3 separate regions of the Homo sapiens genome follow, and regions 1 and 2 are each linked to region 3. A link means that fine-mapping ties the variant in region 3 to the expression of a gene that starts in the linked region. Tissue or cell type: whole blood. Region 3 holds a variant in brackets; each other region holds the start of a gene. All regions are shown on one strand. Distances are from middle to middle.

The links. PIP is the estimated chance that this variant, and not a neighbour inherited with it, causes the effect.
Region 1: it holds the start of NAP1L1, and the variant in region 3 is fine-mapped to the expression of NAP1L1 in whole blood (TOPMed, PIP above 0.99).
Region 2: it holds the start of ZDHHC17, and the variant in region 3 is fine-mapped to the expression of ZDHHC17 in whole blood (TOPMed, PIP above 0.99).

What each region holds. Positions count from the first base shown.
Region 1 is chr12:76,081,679-76,087,810 of GRCh38, reverse strand. It overlaps NAP1L1 (nucleosome assembly protein 1 like 1), which reads left to right and starts at 3,126. Exons shown (of 15, transcript NM_004537.7): 1 at 3,126-3,244. It overlaps LOC124902970 (a long non-coding RNA gene), which reads right to left and starts at 2,726. Exons shown (of 2, transcript XR_007063379.1): 1 at 2,644-2,726; 2 at 1,078-1,600. RefSeq lists silencers at 2,692-2,851, 3,292-3,371, 3,512-3,561, 3,632-3,691, 3,742-3,811 and an enhancer at 2,855-3,396.
Region 2 is chr12:76,761,191-76,767,322 of GRCh38, reverse strand. It overlaps ZDHHC17 (zDHHC palmitoyltransferase 17), which reads right to left and starts at 3,208. Exons shown (of 17, transcript NM_015336.4): 1 at 2,994-3,208. The coding sequence starts at 3,086. RefSeq lists enhancers at 2,861-3,010, 2,202-3,044, 3,020-3,314, 3,611-3,710 and a silencer at 3,061-3,470.
Region 3 is chr12:76,547,873-76,554,004 of GRCh38, reverse strand. The region is part of intron 1 of OSBPL8 (oxysterol binding protein like 8); the gene reads left to right. Among named protein-coding and RNA genes, the nearest start is that of OSBPL8, 8.8 kb to the left of the region's middle. The variant GTTT/T (reference allele first, on the strand shown) is at 2,863.

The sequences.
Region 1 (6,132 bases), 470 kb after region 3:
AAAAAAAAATTTTTTTAAGTTTCACAACAGCCCTATGAAAAATGCATGCTTATTTTCCCCATTTTACAGATGTGGAAAATGAAACCTGGGATGGCTAACTGACTTATCCAAAGTTACACAGCTATTAAGTGGTAGAAAAATGGGGACAAAATAGGCTGTTTGACTCCAAAGCCACCCCTCTAAGCCTCCAGGCTACAATGCTATAAAAGTCTACCAAATGAAAATCATGGGAGATAGAGAAAAAAGGACCTTTAATTTTAGTATATATGCTTCCAAAGAGAGCATGAGAAAAGGAACTGCAACAGAAAATTTCGCATGGCCCAAGATCAGTGACCAGGGTCACCATTTATTGCAATTAAGTTAGATGAGTTAACTACATTGTGTGATTTGGGGGTATAAGAGGGGCCAATGTAAAAAGCTCAAAGGTGGCCGGATGCAGAGGCTCACACCTGTAACCCCGGCACTTTGGGAGGCTGAGGCAGGCGGATCATTTGAGGTCAGGAGCTCGAGACCAGACTGACCAGCATGGTGAAACCCCATCTCTACTAAAAACACAAAAAAACTAGCTGGGCGTGGTTGCGCCTGCCTGTAGTCACAGCTAATCGGGAGGCTGAGGCAGGACAATTGCTTGAAACCGGGAGGCAGAAGTTGCAGTGAGCCGAGATCGCGCCACTGCACTCCAGCCTGGGCAACAGAGTGAGACTCCGTCGAAAAAAAAAAAAAAAAAAAGCTCAAAGGTATCTTCAGGTCAGTCACCTCCTACCCCTTTTCTCATTTTATTTTCTTTATAGCATTCACTTATCAATTATTTATTATTGATAAGTGAAATTGTTTTATTACTAATATTTTATTAGTAAAATTATTTTATCTCTAATCATTTGCCTCACCTCACTAGACCATAACTTCAATAAAATCAAGAACCGTGTCTTTCTTACTAAATGCTGTATTTCCAGAGTCCGAAGTTGTGCCTGACATAAATATTTGTTGAATGAATGCATAAATGTCTGCCCTTCCCTGAACTTTAATGGCAAAGACTTAGATTTACAAACTGGTTCAAAAGACTATATTACAAAGGCATGCATTATTAGAAATATTTTATTGTTTAGTTTCTTAGATTGGCTAGGATACACTGAAAAAAGAAGAGGAAGCTGGAGAAAAGGGGGAAAGAGCATATGTACTGGTAATGATAACACCTAAGTTATAGGGGTTGGTGGGGGGGTGGTGAAACCTAAAAAATCCAGAGCCTTCATGAGCGAAGTGCCGAAAATTGATGAGGCTCTCTGGTGTGGGATAAAAACCACCACAAAAGCTAACTTCTCAATTTTGTCTCAGAAATTCTGCTACCATAAAGATTTATGGAAAGAAAGTGAAAGTTATTTAGTTCATTTTAATATGCTAATTACCTTGCATCGTGCACAGCTTTGATTAAAATGCAACATTCCTGAAGTTCTTATTGAAATTAATGTGTCAAATTTATGTTCAAACTGAGCACTGGTCTACCTTGTTTATGTATAGTGGGTTCTTCCTGAAGATCCATTATTGATGCTATTATGCTCCTTGTATCATTACATCATTGTTGAGAAGGGTGTACAGGAATAGGCTATGAGAACAACAAAGGAATTGTATATGAAAAACTAAAATGAATGAATAAACAGAGTCGTCTGCAGTATAGAGTGGGAAGGCAAATAATTTCAATGAGGTTCTGGAGGGCCAAGGAAAACATTGTATCCCCTAAAACGGAAGATAAAGTTGCTAAATGTGTGGATTACAATAGGGGATTCTAGGCAGTTTGAAGTTTCAATAAATGCAAGATTTAGAGAAGAGGTTCTCAAACTTTGTGGTCTTAGGATTCCTTTACACTCCTTTAAAAGTTGAGGACCCCAAAGAACTTTTATGTGCATTACTGATACTGATATTTATATCAGAAATTAAAAGTGAGAAATTTTAAGAGTATTTCATTTAAAAACAATAAAGCAATCAAATATTAACAAAAAATAATTTTTATATGAAAAATAACTACTCCCCCTTGCCCCCAAATCGAGTTTTTGCAAATCTCTTTAACGTCTGGTTTAACCGCAGATGACTGGATTCTCCTATCTGCTTCTATTTTCAGTCTGTTTCCTTATCACATGTCACGTAGCCTCCGGAAAACCCCACTGTACACTTGTGAGAGAATGAGAATGCAAAAGGCAGTCTTGACATTAATATGGAAATAGTTTTGACCTTCCCCATGAAAGGGTCTGGGGACCCTCAGACCATACTCTGAGAACAACTTTTTGAGTTAGTATTAGTCAATTCATCATCACTTGAAAATTAGCTATGAGGTTTTACAAGCCTGAGGATTTAATGTGATTTACTTTTTCAGAAAGATGAAACAACGGACGTACTGAGTGTCCTCATTATAACGCATCCAGAGAATGCACAAATATGCCATTTTCATCCGTCAAAAGAACTGAAGCCGAACTGACGGACTGTACATCAGTTACGAGGATGTGGCGGGGGGTTGGGGGGCAAAGGATGACGAGCACCCCCTAAAGGCGCGGAGACCCGCTGGCATAGGAGAAGCAAAACTGTCAGAAGAGGCCGCCGAAGTGGTCTAGAGGAAAAAACTGTTTTTCTTAGGCGGGGAAGGAAAACGGTTACCGGGGGCCGGCGAGTTGCAGGAATTAGGCCTTGACAGGGAGCGTCCGCCGTCTAGGCTGCGGCGAGCGAGGGACCAGGCGACTGGCGCCAGCCCTGAGCGTTCCCAGCACAACGCCGAAGGGGGCGGGGCGGGCCGGGCGCCGGGCACGCGGGCCAGGCCTTCCCCACAACTGATGGGGTTGAAATTTCCTTTCCGGCTCAGCAGGGAGAAAAGATATGGTGGGGTGCTTAACAGAGGAGGTTAGACACCGGCGGGAACCAGAGGAGCCCAAGCGCGGCGCCTGGGCCTCGGGGCTGCAGGAGTCCTCGGTGGGGGTATGGAGGTCGCCGGGGAAGGAGGACGGTTCAGTTGCTAGGCAACCCGGCCTGGACCCGCCTCTCGCTCGCGTTGCTGGGAGACTACAAGGCCGGGAGGAGGGCGGCGAAAGGGCCCTACGTGCTGACGCTAATTGTATATGAGCGCGAGCGGCGGGCTCTTGGGTCTTTTTTAGCGCCATCTGCTCGCGGCGCCGCCTCCTGCTCCTCCCGCTGCTGCTGCCGCTGCCGCCCTGAGTCACTGCCTGCGCAGCTCCGGCCGCCTGGCTCCCCATACTAGTCGCCGGTAACGGATGGGGGCCTGGAAGGGAAGGGGGAACGTGGTGTTGGCTGGGCGGCCTGCGCAGATGGGAGGGCCGGAGGGATGGAGGGACTGGGAGCCGGGAGTCGGGGCCGCTGGCCGCCCGTGGCCTCCGGGGTCGTCCTGTGAGGTCGGACAGGACCGCGGAGTCCGGACCCCGGAGCCTGAGAGGGGCCCCGGGGCCGACCAGCGCTTTTATCGGGGACGGCTGAGGCGACGTAGGGGTTGGCGCGGCCTGGAGGCCTAAGGTTCTCTGAGCTCCACCGTCTTTTCCGCGTGGACCGGAGCGAGGCCGCGGTGACGCCCGGGTGCCCTGAGACTCGGCTGCGCCGCGAGGACCGGGAGGCCCCCGGCGTACGGGCCGGGCCGAGTGCAGAGCCGGCCGCCTCTTGGACACCCCCCTGCTTTTCCCTCAAAAATAATACCAGGAGGGAGGCCGCTGGGAGATGAAAAGAACGGCGGAGGCTGCGAATTCCGACGGGAGGGAGGGGCTGTGGAGGGACGAGTCCCCGAGGCGGGGAGGGGGCGGGGGAGGCTGCGACGCTCCCGGGCTCTCCGCCCATTGGGGGCGGCCGCGCGGGGAGGGGAAACCCCCGGCGGCTTCGCTCCACACGTGGTAATGGGCTTCATGGCCACTGGCTGGGCCTGGTTGGAGACCCTTGCCCTCGGTCTGTGCTTACTTTGAAAGTTGTAGAGACGGTGGAATGTGAAAAGGAAGGGTAAGCGAGTAAGCCCTGTCCCTGGGTTTCAAACTCTTCCCTGCTTCTCTTTGGTCTTAATCTTTTTATTGGTACCAGAGATTGTGGATGTTAGCTGATGATAAGGAAGGGCCTCCACTGCTAGTATTTTAAAAAGTTAACGCGTATATAGCGCTTATATTAACTGTTATTAGCAAAAGGTTGTTATTGTGTTTCCCAGGTACTGTTAGATGGGTGTCTTGATCAGGGTTTTTTATTTGGGGAGTATTGATCCTGATCGATCTAAACCCCTAAACCAAGCTTGTCCAACCCGCGGCCCAGGACGGCTTTAAATGTGGCCCAACACAAATTCATGAGGTTTTTTTTTTTTTTTTTTTTTTGGAAAAAAAAGCTCATCAGCTAGTTAATGTATTTTACGTGTGGCCCAAGACAGTTCTAGTGTGGCCCAGGGAAGCCAAAAGATCGGACCACCCCTGCAAACGGTTCTTAGATGAAAATAAAATGTTTGGCCCTTTATGACTTTAATTGTTCTTGGCTGTCTTATAAATTAGTTCCTTTATTGAAGTCACTAGAATAAGATACTTAACGGTTTCCTTTTTAAGATGGGAGGTGGGATGGAATGAGGTGTTAGTATAAACTTTGCCAAGTTTGTAGCCTGCAACCTTGTCAATGAACCCTACTGCCCTAAAGATCTGGGGGATGGCAGTGTAGGGGGGCTGGGACTGAGGTCCCATCTGGGAAGGCTAGACTTTGAGAGTGCAAAAAGGATGAACCAGGCGCAGGATGTCCTCAAGGAGCCCGTATTTTAGACGGTCACTGATCAGTTTTGAAACAACTACATTTTAAAAATCTCACTGCTACATTTGAAGATATCCCACTGCTGCATTTTAAAATTTACACTGCTTGCCTGGTTTCACAAGAGCTGTAAAATGAAATTTGGCCTTTTGAAAATAGGTGGATTCAAAACATCTTTGGAAACGAGTATCTGGGTCCTCTTTTTTTGGTCAGCTTAAATTAATACTCCTATACTTTGGAAGTAATATACATTACCTTTGATTGAATAAGGGAAAAACCTTTTATGTATAGGGTACCATTTAAAAATCGAAGGGAAGTAAATGACTTTTACAGTTATTTTCAAGGCACTCTTGTGTTTCAAGCTTGTTTGAAGTTGCCCAAGTTTAAATAAATGGCCTAAATCTATAGTTTAGTTCTAAGAATACTGTCCTTTGGAGAATGTATGGAACTAAACCCTGGTAGGTGGACTTGGACATCTTCTGTCATAAAACCTGACTTTCATAGATTCTCCAAGTCAACATTATGTTAGTAAATAGAAATTTAAAAGTTTTCACTATACCAATTTGAATATCTTTCTAAATTTTATCTGCTACAAAGTGCCTATTTTTATATTAGGCCCATTGATTTGCAGAATTATAAAGCTAATACTGAATATGGTAAATTACTGCACTTGGCCTTTAATGAGATTTTTGAAACGAATACCTGTACCATAACTAATGTAATCCAAAATGCCATCTCATTTTATTCAGCTTGCTCCTGTTGGCTCCTGGTAAAACTGAGTTGATTCTAAATTCTCAAAATATATTCAAAACTAAGGGTCTTTTTGTAGAAGGGGCTAAAGAAGCAGTATCTGTTGGACTTCAAAGGTCTGAAGATGTCAAAATACAATATTTTATTCACTTCTTGGTTGTAAATTTGAAACAAAGGATTAGAGAGAATGACTCATCAATATCAAAATATTAATGATCAGTGTATTCAGATCTTCAAGTTTAATCAAACCTGTAATTGTGTTCTCAGTTTAGTCTTTGGGTAACTATCTAGCACCTGTATGGACATGTATCTTATGTCATGAGCAAAAGAGGCAAATTGGTTGCTTAGATGTAGAATGTTAAATTGTGATGAGAGCTATAAAGGAAGGAAAGGGTAAAGGGGTCAAAGAGTAATACAGCGTTTACACAAAGGAACCTGTTATAATTTGATGATTTTAAGTTCCATTTCAAACTAGTTTCATCTAAATAAGTTTTTGGGCAGAATAGGGGTTAGAAGGAGAGAGTTGTTACTTTACACCTATCCATATGTAAGTCGTTTAGCACAATGACTACAGAACATTAGAGTACATTAGTGGGCTTGCCATAGAAAATGGCTTCTATACCTTTGGTT
Region 2 (6,132 bases), 210 kb before region 3:
AAAGTGAAAAACTGTTTTTGTGTGAGAGTATTAAATTGGAAGATAAAAAGTGAAATGAAATTTGTTCCTGCAAGATCCTATTCCACTAAATTAAAACCCACATAAGTTTTAAATCAGTCACCAAAACCAAAATAAATGTGTAACACTTCCCTTTCTTCTGGTAGAGAAAAAAGAAGTAACATTAACTGAGCACCTACAATGTGCCAGTTCTTGACCCTCAACATATAGCCTCACTTAATCCCTTACAGCCAAGTAAACTAGGCAGCATCTCCATTTTCTTTTCTTTTCTTTTTTTTTTTTTTTTGAGACATAATCTTGCTCTGTCACCCAGGATGGAGTACAGCTGCTCGATCATGGCTCACTGCAGCCTCAACCTTCCAGGCTCAAGCAATCCTCCCACCTCAGCATCCGATTAGCTGGGACTACAGGCGTGTACCACCATGCTCAGCTAATTTTTGTATTTTCTGTAGACACAGAGTTTTGCCATGTTGCCCAGGATGGTCTCGAACTCCTGGGCTCAAGTGATTCTCTCACCTCGGCTTCCCAAAGTGCTGGGACTACAGGTGTGAGCCTCCGAGCCCAGCCAGGATCTCCATTTTCTGATTACAACTGAAGCTTAAAGAAATTAAGCACTTGTCTCAGGTCACTTAGCTAGTTACCGAATTTCCAGAATTAGAATCCAAGTCTGTCTGACCCAAAGTCTATGTTCTCTCCAAAAAGAGGTTAAAAGTACTATTATTTCATTACTTACCAAGACAGAGAATGGGTTTCTTCCCAAAGGAGACTGAAAACACTGCTTATTTTAACAACAAAAACATATTATCTCAGTTAATCCTCGCTATAGCTTATTAACTATTATTTTTATCCATTATAAATGATGAAACTAGAACTCAGAGACGTATTCATAGCTTGCCCAAGAACACACTGCTAGGAGGCAGCAGAACTACCCCAGGTCTGCACCAGCTGCACACACTAACCACAGAAAATGCAGAAAGACCTCAGCCATGTAGTACAAGCTTAAGGTCCATCCAAAGTATTAAAATAATCAGACCTTGTGCTTCTTGGGTAAAAAGGAACGGTATATATTATGTATGCCAATTCCCACTATCAATGATGAGGAGGTTGACTTTCTAGTAATATCCTATCTATCGAATGGCAACCTGAAGATCGGTAGCTAAATTTCAAGCCTATACTGGCCATTCTACTACACCAAATAATCTGGATTTGTTGCCAGTTAAAATTATTCTTAAAGTAGCAAACAACAGTACTATATTACAAAGCAAAGGTTTATGAAGAACAGTATGCTAAAATACGTAAGATAGGCCTGGCATGGTGGCTCATGCCTGTAATCCCAGCACTTTAAGTAGCTAAGGTGAGAGGACCACTTGAGTTCAAGAGTTCAAGACCAGCCTAGACAACATAGGGAGACCTCTTCTTCTACAAATAATAAAAAAATCAGCCGGGTATGGTGGCGCGAGCCTGTGGTCACAGCTACTCAGGAGGCTGAGGGGAGAGGATCACTTGAGCCCTGGAGGTAGAGGCTGCAGTGAGCTGTCATCGTGTCAGTGCACTCCTGCCTGGGGGACAGGGAGAAACCCCGTCTCAAAAAAATAAACTGGATAAACACTTAAGTGTTTGAAATACTTTCACGAATACTTTCACAGGAACAGATGAATAGAAATCACTTAGCAACATTTTCAAGGCAACATCTGAAAACTACTTTGTCTATTTCCTGACGTATGTTAGGGCCTAAGTGAACCAAAAGAGATGTCTACAATGCCAGTTCTGAAAATGTTACCACTTTGGTCAGACAAGTGTTTAGTCTTACTGTATAGTTCTGTTTATCAGAAACCCAGAGTAGCCTTTTCTACTGAGACTGGCACAGGTATATATTCCGAAGGAACTGTCCCATGTGTTTTTGATAAACCAAAGTGACGAATGAGAGGGTGGTTGAGTGTTAACATGCAACATAAAAGGATGGTTGTCATTATTCACTTTTTAACAAAAACTAGTGGCATGGTACAAACCCAAATCCAGAAAAAAACAGAATCACTCCATTGCAAAGTAACCAGGTAGAGACTTCCATGTTTGTTCATCCTACAACACGACTGTCATCTTTTAACCTCATGAAAACTACCCGAGTTCTTCAGCAAACTGTGCCGCTGCCGCATACAGACATCACTGTGGATCACTAAAAATCAGAATGCATCAAGAATTGCTTCCAAGCCTTAACTAGCACTAGCTCAGCTACAAACTCGGAGGTAAACAAGCACAGACTGACTGACTGTGGAGCGGGGCACTGTTTACTTACATGGGAAGACACTCATGTTGTGATGGGAAACGTGTTGCACTGTCCACCCCTAGCTCCTAGAAAAACGGTACTTTGACAAGCTAATGTGAGTGTAAGTCTATTCCCAAAAGTTTTTACCTCTCTTCTTAATCGCTTAAGGACAAATGCTCAAAAAAGGACGCCCGACACAAGGTGCCCGAGGTGCTACCCATGGCATTACCTGGAAGGACATCACTATGCCCATGAAACTGTCCCCTCACAGTGGACTAAAAGGAAGCAATAGATACCGTCATTCACCCTGGCGAAGGAAAAAGAAATCAAAACCAGACGCGCTTCCACCTGGCCCCAAGAGGCTTGGAGCAAGACTAGGGTCTAAGCTGCGGTTCAAAAACCACACCAGGCCCCTCCGCCTCTGCTCTCAAACGCAGCGCGGCGACACAGCAGAACCATCAACACCTCCACCTCTGTCCTCCAGGCACAGCCAGGGACTGCGTCCCAGAGCCCGCCCCGGTCGGGCCCGCCCCGCTATCTCCTCCCCCGTTATCCGCTCGCAGCCGCGCTCAGGCCTGGATTCGCCTCCCCACCCTCCCCAACTTCGGCACGTCCCACTACCCCACACACGTCGGCCGCCGCCCTCGGCGAGTCCGGGGAAGAAAGGCTGGAGGGCCGCAGGGCAAGGAATCCACTCAGCACGGTTCCTCACCTCTGGGTGGAGAAGGGGCACACAGCCCGCTTCGGTATCGTACTCATCCGGGCCGTCCGCCATCTTGGTGTTAAATCCCTCCTCCCGCTGCATGCTGGGAGAAAGCGTTTCACCCTCCCGGGGCTCGGGCGAGGCGGAGGGCGAGCGCGGGGCGAGCGCGAGCCCCGCCGGAGGCGACGCGGGCCTCCTCCTCCTTCTTCTCCTGCCCCCGTGACGCCCCCTCTGTCCCCTCCCCCCTCGGAGGGCGCGGGTTTCTCCGCGCGTGCGCGGAAGCGCGGCCCGGCCCCAGACTGGATCGCGCTCTGCTGCACTGCGCTGGGGACGGCGGAGGGCTCTGGGCGTGGGCCCCGCGGCTCGGGGGCGGGTCCCGGCTGGAGGTAGATGTGAAGCTCTGGCTGCCCGGGGGAGGCGGCCGGGCGGTTGAGACAGTCGCTTGGGAAACCTAGCAGCTGCTCAGGAGCGAGAACAGAGCTCCGGAGCCGCACGCAGCACAAGTCTGGAGCCCCAGGCAGCCGAGGAGCCCACGCCCACGCGCTCCCACTTCCGCTCCGGGACCCCCGGGACCCCTCTTCAGGAACTCGGGCAGAGTCGTCAGCCAGCTCCAGGGAGGTTTGGGCCCGTCAGGCTTGAGTCGAGACCTGCATCATTCCTGAAGACAAAAGCAGCTTCCCTTTCCTCCACACTTGAAAAGGTCACCCGCAACCTGTCCCTCCGGGGGACGCCCGGAAAAACATGGATACAACTCGGGACTTCCTACTAGAGAACCCTTTTTTTTTTTTTTTTTTTTTTTTTTTTTTTTTTAATGAGACAGAGTTTTGCTCTTGCCGCCCAGGCGGGAGTGCAATGGCGCGATCTCAGCTCACTGCAACCTCTGCCTCCCGGTTCAAGCGATTCTCCTGCCTCAGCCTCCCGAGTAGCTGGAATTACAGGTGCACGCCACCACGCCCGGCTAATTTTTGTATTTTTAGTAGAGACGGGTTTTCACCATGTTGGCCAGGCTAGTCTCGAACTCCTGACCTTAAGCGATCCGCCCGCCTCGGCCTCCCAAAGTGCTGGGATTACAGGCTTGAGTCACCACACCCTGCCGAGAACTCTTTTTAAAATGATCCCAACCTGCTCTCAATCGTCTTGAATTAGTACCACACAAAAAATTTACGAGCTCAAAGCCCACACACCGCCATCTGCAACATTTCGATATAATCCAGGAATTCAGAACTGAAGCCACTTAAACTGAATTCGCTTAAATGCAAGGCAGATAAAATGACTAAAGCCATTTTTTAAAGGATTTTAGGGCGGTATGGGGGAGGTGCTCCCTGTAAATGGGCTGATGGGACAGTTTTAGATAGCATTTGTCTTTCCTTTTAGCTGTTAAAAATTGTAAGTCTAAACAGCTGAGAATTTAGCAGAGATCATGAAAGTTGACCTATTAGAGATCCTGGTACTTACTAATCTGTCTCCTGTTAGGCCAGAAACCACCAGGAAAAAGCCTGTACTCCGATAACGTCAGGCCAATTTGTAAATCAGGAGGGAGGGCACTCCAAAGGAAGCTTGGAATGCCACTGGAAAAGGAAAGAGGAAGCCTCCTTTGTAAGATTAGTTTCCCGCCAAAGGAGTCTGAGGAGGGTCTAAGGAGAGCCAGAATCAGTTCTGCATGGGACGCCGTTTCCGTGGCGGCATGAAGAAAAGCTGGGATTTACGAGGGATTGGATGCTGTCTTGAGGATACAGCAATTTAGTAATTAGGTACCTCCAGTAATAAAGTAGCAACACTAGTAAGAGCAGCAGTTACTCAAAGAGGGGTGAATATGGCGTGTCATAGCTACTGCACGGCTGTGGGAGAAAGAAGTTTCTCAGTTAACTTTGCTGCTGGCTTTTTCTGTATCTGTCCTCCCAGCACAACTACTTTTTCTCATTTCAGTCCGAGCTGATTTTCATTCTGTTCGTCCTGGCCCAAACTAGGAGTCATCTTTTACAGCTAGATAGTCTCAGGGTCGGCCCTTGGAGCATCGAATTGTTTTCAGTCATATGTTAACATGGACATAAGTCATTTTCACTCAAAAATCTCAATTTTTTTTTTTTTTTTGAGACTGAGTTTCACTCATGCCCAGGCTGGAGTGCAATGGCTCGATCTCGGCTCACTGCAACCACCACCTCCCAGGTTCAAGCGATTCTCCTGCCTCAGCCTCCCAAGTAGCTGGGATTACAGACATGCGCCACCATGCCCGGCTAATTTTGTATTTTTAGTAGAGACAGGGTTTCTCCATGTTGGTCAGGATGGTCTGGAACTGCCGGCCTCAGGTGATCCACCCGCGTCTGCCTCCTAAATTGCTAGGATTACAGGCGTGAGCCACCGCACCCAGCCAAAAATCTCAATTTTTTTTTTTTTTTTTTTTTTGAGACGGAGTCTTTCTTGCTCTGCGGCCCAGGCTGGAGTGCAGTGGCGAGATCTCAGGTCACTGCAACCTCTGCCTCCCAGATTCAAGCGATTCTCCTGCCTCAGCCTCCTGAGTAGCTGGGATTAAGGGCGCGCCACCATGCCCTGCTAATTTTTGTATTTTTAGTAGGGATGGGGTTTCACCATGTTGGTCAGGCTGGTCTCGAACTCCTGACCTCGTGATCCACCCACCTCGGCCTCCCAAAATCTTGGGATTACAGGCGTGAGCCACTGCGCCCGGCCAAAAATCTCAATTTTGAATCTTGCCCTTCCTTACCTTTATGTCTTGCATTGACTAGAAATAGAAGATTAGAGTAAATAAAGGACACCGACTGAAAAAGTTAAGTGGCATAAATATTAATAAAGCATTGAATGAAGTGAGAGTGTAAAGAAACTAGGCATGGAAAACTGGAGAAAATGTTTCAGGTACCCATGTATTAGGAATATTGGTACAGGTATATGATGTGGAGTATTCATAAAAGAAATGTTTAGCCTTCCCTGCGAAAATCAGTAAATCAGAGTTCACTTTAAAATCTAGAGTTCTAGTTCATCTGGCAAACAAGCCATCTTGACCTTCTTGCTCAGTCTCTACCAGGTCTATGGCCTGCTTTACTCGTTCTCATTACCTGCCTGGCTCTGTGGATATTTTTACTCCTGAGAATTCCACAATTCAAATATAAGGAAAATACTAAAAGCAGCCGAAAAG
Region 3 (6,132 bases):
TTTTTAGTGTTTTTTTTTTTTTTTTTTTGAGATAGAGTCTCACTGTGTCACCTAGGCTGGAGTGCAGTAGTGTGATCTTGGCTCACTGCAACCTCTGCCTCCCGGTTTCAAGTGATTCTCATGCCTGAGCCTCCTGAGTAGCTGGGATTACGGGTGCATGCCACCATGCCCAGCTAATTTTTTGTATTTTTAGTAGAGATGGGGTTTCACCATATTGGCCAGGCTGTTCTCGAACTCCTGACGTAAAGTGATCCACCTGCCTCGTCCTCCCAAAGTGTTGAGATTACAGGCGTGAGCTACCTCCTCTGGCCTTTTTTTTTTTTCTTCTGATACAGGGTCTTGAGCTGTCACCTAGGCTGGAGTGCAGTGGCACTCACTACCATGGCTCACTGCAGCCTCGACCTCCCAGGCTCAAGTGATCCTCCTGTCTCTGCCTCCCAAGTAGCTGGGACTACAGGCGAATACCATCACACCTGGCTAATTTTTAAGTTTTTTTTTTTTTTTTTAGAAACAGAGTCTCACTATGTTGCCCAGCTTGGTCTTGAACCCCTAGCCTCAAATGATTCTCCCACCTTGGTCTCCCAAAGTGCTGGGATTATAGATGTGAGCTGCCATGCCAGGCCTATTTAGTGATATTTGAGGGACACAGATCTGTACAGTTGAAATCTGTCCTGTTGAGATGACCACCAGTAAGGTAATTTTTGCTTTTTGGCTGCCAAATGCCTACATATTAGCAGGAATAGTTTGTCAGATTACATAATTTTTTACAAGGAAGGCTGGGGCCCATGTGGAAATTATGGAATCTATGTTGGTATATTTTGATGGGATGGAAGTATGGTAGATCTGGAGAGAGAGAAGTTCAATCTAAGTAACATTATTACCGGGTAGAGTAATGAGGTGGGGTGCTTTGGATGTGAGGGCACAGGTACATTGTTCAAGTGGAGAGTAGGATGAGGGACTTCTGGAGACTAGCTTTGCTTAGTGTGTAATTTTGTGCATTGTTATGATTATAATAACTTGTAAGATCAGCAATTTGGAAGTAAAGAAAAGCAGTGCTGTGCATCATAGTGTGGAGTTTGTAATAGTTCTAGGCTGTTTTGCAAGATGTAGGTGCTTTACAAATATCCATTGGTAGTAATGGAAGTGCTCTGTCTTATCACCTATTTTAGAAATCTGGAGAGGCAGAATAGCACGAACCCTGGAGCCAGACTGCCAAAGTTCAGAACTGGTACAGCCACTTACTAGCCTATTGCACTGGCCCTATGCTGACTTGGGGTGGCCAAAAGGGAAGAAAATGGCATATTTAAGCAGAGAGGGGGCCAGAGATAGCACTCTGTGAGTTTTCCATGGTTCTTACATGGTCTGAAAGAGATCTGGATGTTCTCACATATGACTAGTGAAGGAAATAGAAGTTAGTAGAGTGAGAGCCAGGAAGCCTGTCATTAGGCTGCTATTGTGAGGGAGGGACCATGTAGTAGACAGAGGTTGTGGGAAGGGCAGATTCATTTCATTGCCCACAAAAATTTGTGCTCCCTCTTGCTTGCAACATTTTTTTTTTTTTTTTTTTTTTTTTTTTGGAGACATGGGGTATCGCTCTGTTGCTCAGGCCAGAGTGCAGTGGCAGGATCTTGGCTCACTGCAACCTTCGCCTCCTGGGCTCAAGTGATTCTTGTGCCTTAGCCTTCCGAGTAGCTGGTACTACAGGGATGTGCCACCGTGCCTGGCAAATTTTTTGTATTTTTGGTAGAGATGGGGTTTCACCATGTTGCCCAGGCTGGTCTCTAACTGCTGAGTTCAAGCGATCTGCCCGCCTCAGCCTCCCAAAGTGCTGGCATTACAGGTGTGAGCCACTGTGCCTGCCACTAGTTTTTCACTAGTGAATGTGAATAGAAATCAATTTGTTGTCACTTCTGGGTTGAAGTGGCAGAAAAAATAGGTATTCTTTCTTCACCTTCTCTTTTCTAATTCAAGGGCCAGATGCAGAGGTTTAGGCTCTTAAGGGATAGTAAAACCATAAGATTGGAATGTTCTACAGTCCCTAAATTTACCATGTGAAAGAAATTTGTGTACCAAATAGGAATACCCACAATGGATTGTAATATTAATGAGAAATTTTAATTGTGTGAAGCTACCGAAAATCTGGGGTTTATTTGTTAAGCAGCTAGTGTTGCCTTAAGTATAAGCCAGGGACTGGATAGACGAGGTAGTCGAGACTGTAATAATATCCGTACCAGCAGGAGCTGAGGTGGGTGGGGCCAAGTTAGGAGATCCTCTGGATACTGTTCCAACATATTCATCAGCATGTGCCATTGTGACTCTGTGAGGGCCAATATTCAAACCTTAGAGGCCTGTGAGGATCCCCAGGGCAATCCATGGGTCTGTATTCAGGCTAATCATAATACTCCAGATGCCCATGAAAGCTTTATCTTACGCCCAGTCACCATGATAAGAATGAGGAACAGAGAAAATCTATACAAGTCTGAAGAGTTTTCTTAAAGTAGGGTTTCTTAACTTGACTCTGTTGATATTTTGGGCTGGATAATTCTTTGTTGTGTGTTCCTGTGCATTGTAGAATGTATAGCACCATCCCTGGCCTCTACTCACTAGATGCTAGTACCATCTTTCTTAATTGTGACAATGAAAAATGTTTCAAGATATTGCCAGATGTTCCCTGGGGACAAGGTCACTCTCAGTAGAGAACTACTGCTTTAAAGATTGAGTGAATGAGTGAATCTGAAAGAAATGATTTTAAATGGAAAGAAACTATTATCCTTAATTAAAGAACTTTTTCCCCTTTTAGGGGTTGGGTAAGGTTCATGGGGAGCAGTTCATTTCTGTATATCCAATAAAGGAAGCTATGTT[GTTT/T]TTATAAAACATCCTAGTTTCTAGTGTGTGTGTGTGTGTTTTCCTCTCTTCCTTGATATACTATATATATGTTTGTATTATTTTTTGAGTGACAGAGTCTCCTCCTGTCTCCTGCACTCCAGGCTGGAGTGCAGAATTCCTGAGCTCAAAGGATCCTCCTGCCTCACCTTCCCCAGTAGCTAGGACTACAGGTTTGTGCCACTGTGGCTGGCTACTTTATTTTTTTTGTACAGACAGGGTTTCGCTATTTTGCATAGGCTGAATTTGAACTCCTGCCTCCCAAAATGTTGGGATTACAGGCATGAACCCTGGTACCCAGCCTTAATGTTGATTCACCTTTCTCTTTATCAGCTTTAGAAATTACTTGAATTTTCCATTTATTACCTTGTGATTATTTCTTCTAAACCAGTAGCTGTACTTTTTATTGGCTAGACTAAGCTTGTCCAATCCCTGGCTGGTGAGCTGCGCACGGCCCAGGACAGTTTTGAATGCGGCCCAACACAAATTCATAAACTTTCTTAAAACATAAGGAGATTTTTTTGTTTTTTAAAGCTCATCAGCTATTGTTAGTGTTAGTGTATTTTATGGGTGGCCCAAGACAATTCTTCTCTTCCAGTGTGGTCCAGGGAAGCCAAATGATTGGACACCCCTGGCCTAAACAAATACACGTTTTTTCCCCTGTAATCTCAGCTGTCATGTCCACAGGTTGTCTCTAAATTATGAAAACCAATAAATAGTGTTGATACCATGACTGTGTAAGTATTATTTAATGCTAAGCCAGATAATGTGCTTAGATGATTATTCCTTTTCTGTCCCTGGGCTGCCAGAAGAAACATGTTGATAATATAGAGAATTAGTAGACTTTATTTATTTTATCAATTCTGACCATCAAATTAAAAAAAAATTTGGATATGACCAAAATCTAACTTTGGAATTAAAAAAGTTTTTGAATAGGACTTCCTGTTTTTCTTAGTGTCTTAAATTGCCCTCTTTTCTTGTACTATATGCCTCTATTATAGCCTCCCCTACACCCCAGCCCCCCCACACCCCAACTCTTCAGCATACTGCCTTTTGTGCTGCATTCTCTATTTATCTGTATTTGTCTGTAACTCTGCCTCCATTTGGACTCTTCTAGGTCTTTTCTTGTAACTTCCTTTCTCCTTACTCTTGAATTGGATCCATTCTGTTATACATATTTTTTTTTCCTTTTTTTTTTTTGCATCTGCTTGATCTGTTTATTGGAGTACATCTTCAAATAACTCTTTGAAAAAGAAGTATGTATGAGAGGCAAACTTTCCGAATTCTGTGTAAAAAAGTCTCCATTCTATTCTCACAAATGATTGATAATTTGGCTGGGTACAATATTGTTAGTTAGAAATAATTTTCCTTTAGAACCCTGAAAGGATTGCTTTGTTGTCTTCTAGCATCTAGGGATGCTGATTAGAAGTCATACATCAACGCCTGTAATCCCAGCACTTTGGGAGGCCGAGGCGGGTGGATCATGAGGTCAAGAGTTTGAGACCAGCCTGGCCAACATAGTGAAACCCTGTCTCTACTAAAAATTAGCTGGGCATGGTGGCAGGTGCCTGTAATCCCAGCTACTTAGGAGTCTGAGGCAGGAGAATCACTTGAACCTGGGAGGTGGACGTTGCAGTGAGCCGAGATCAAACTACTGCACTCTAGCCTGGGTGAGACTCCGTCTCAAAAGAAAAAAAGAAGGAGTCATGTATCAGTCTGATTCACTATCCTTTTAAGGTGATTTGTTCTTTATTCTGTCTGAAAACTTTTAGAATCCGTTCTTTTGTATCTTCTACAAAGTCATAATGAGGTGTATAGGTCATTTTTGTTTTGTTTGGCTGTTTGTCTAGATACTCAGTTGCTCTTACAGTCTGAATCAGATTATTTTTCCAATTCCAGGAAACTCTTCTCTGTCTTTAATAATTTCCTCCCTTCATCATGTTTTTTGCTTTTCAGTAGGCAGTTGCTTTCTGTCTTGATCTTCCTTCTCTCATCTTTTATATTTTGTGGGTTTTTTTTCCCCTTTAGTATTTTGGCTGATTTTCCTGGGGGTAATCTGTAAGTTTTGTTGTTCTCTTTTTCTTTTCCCACCATTTTTACACTATGTTGTATTGTCGTCTTGAGTCTTAGAATGTGCAAATTAGATTTTTTTAAAGATACCTTGTGTCTCCTTGTGTCTAATTTATCTCCTTTTCTCCTCCGGTCAGTTTTTATGTTTGTTTTTGTAATCATTCTTTTTTCATGCTCAGTTTTCCTTATGTGCCTGATAATTCTTGGTTGTCCATTCATGGTTAAGAAAGACAGACTAGGTTCCTGGTCACCCTCCCTCCCCTGTTCCTTGGACTGTTTTCCCTATTAGATTTTTTTTTCTTTGAGTAGGAATTCTGGCCAGAGCACTTTGTGGGGCAAGGTAGTACAGAGTAGGATCTGTCTCTTGGCAGATTGTTTTAGGGTAAAAGAGAGAGGAGCTAGCTGCTAGGCTATGTATGGGCCCTTTAAATGCTGGATGAGATGTGTTTACTCTGTGCCACACCTCCGCTTAGCTTTCCCTAGATAGTGGTTCACTTTCTTTAGGGAAAAGCTGACTTGTTTTTTTGCCTGGAGGTAAAATGTCAGTTGTTTAGAAACTGCTTGGAAATAGGGGATGGGAGATATAGCTGTCCCTTATAGTTAGTCAAGTAATACTCAGTTCTCTTATTTTTAACCCTACTATTTATTTCCACCCTCTGCTGTACCATTTACTTTATAATCATGCTTTCCTGGGGATCTTCTCAGACGTATTGGTTCCCATCCTTTCCATGTCACTCTTAAAGGTTATAATGAGGCTGTGGCTTTTTCCGCTTGTTATTTCTATCAATCTCACATATACTTTCATTTCCCAGAAATTTGTTGGATTTTCTTTCTAGCCTCAATTTTAATTTCTTTACTGTTACGATTTTCTTTCTTTTATGAGTTGTTTTTATTTCAGTGGAGTATCTGGAGTAACTGAAGGGAAAGTTTGTATTTAGCGCCCCATCTTTTATTAGAAGTCTTCTTCTAGCTTCATAAACAGAAGAAACAGAGCCTATTGAACTATTTTTTTGTTAATGCAGATTTATTCATAGAAATTATGATGATCATGATACAGTGTTAAAATACACTTATGTCCCTTCACTATTGATTTGTATAGTTGTTTGTGCCTTTATGCCGCTTGGTCCTAAAACTTGAACTCTGAATTCTTGCTTGCTTCATAGTTTTTGTTTCCCCTTT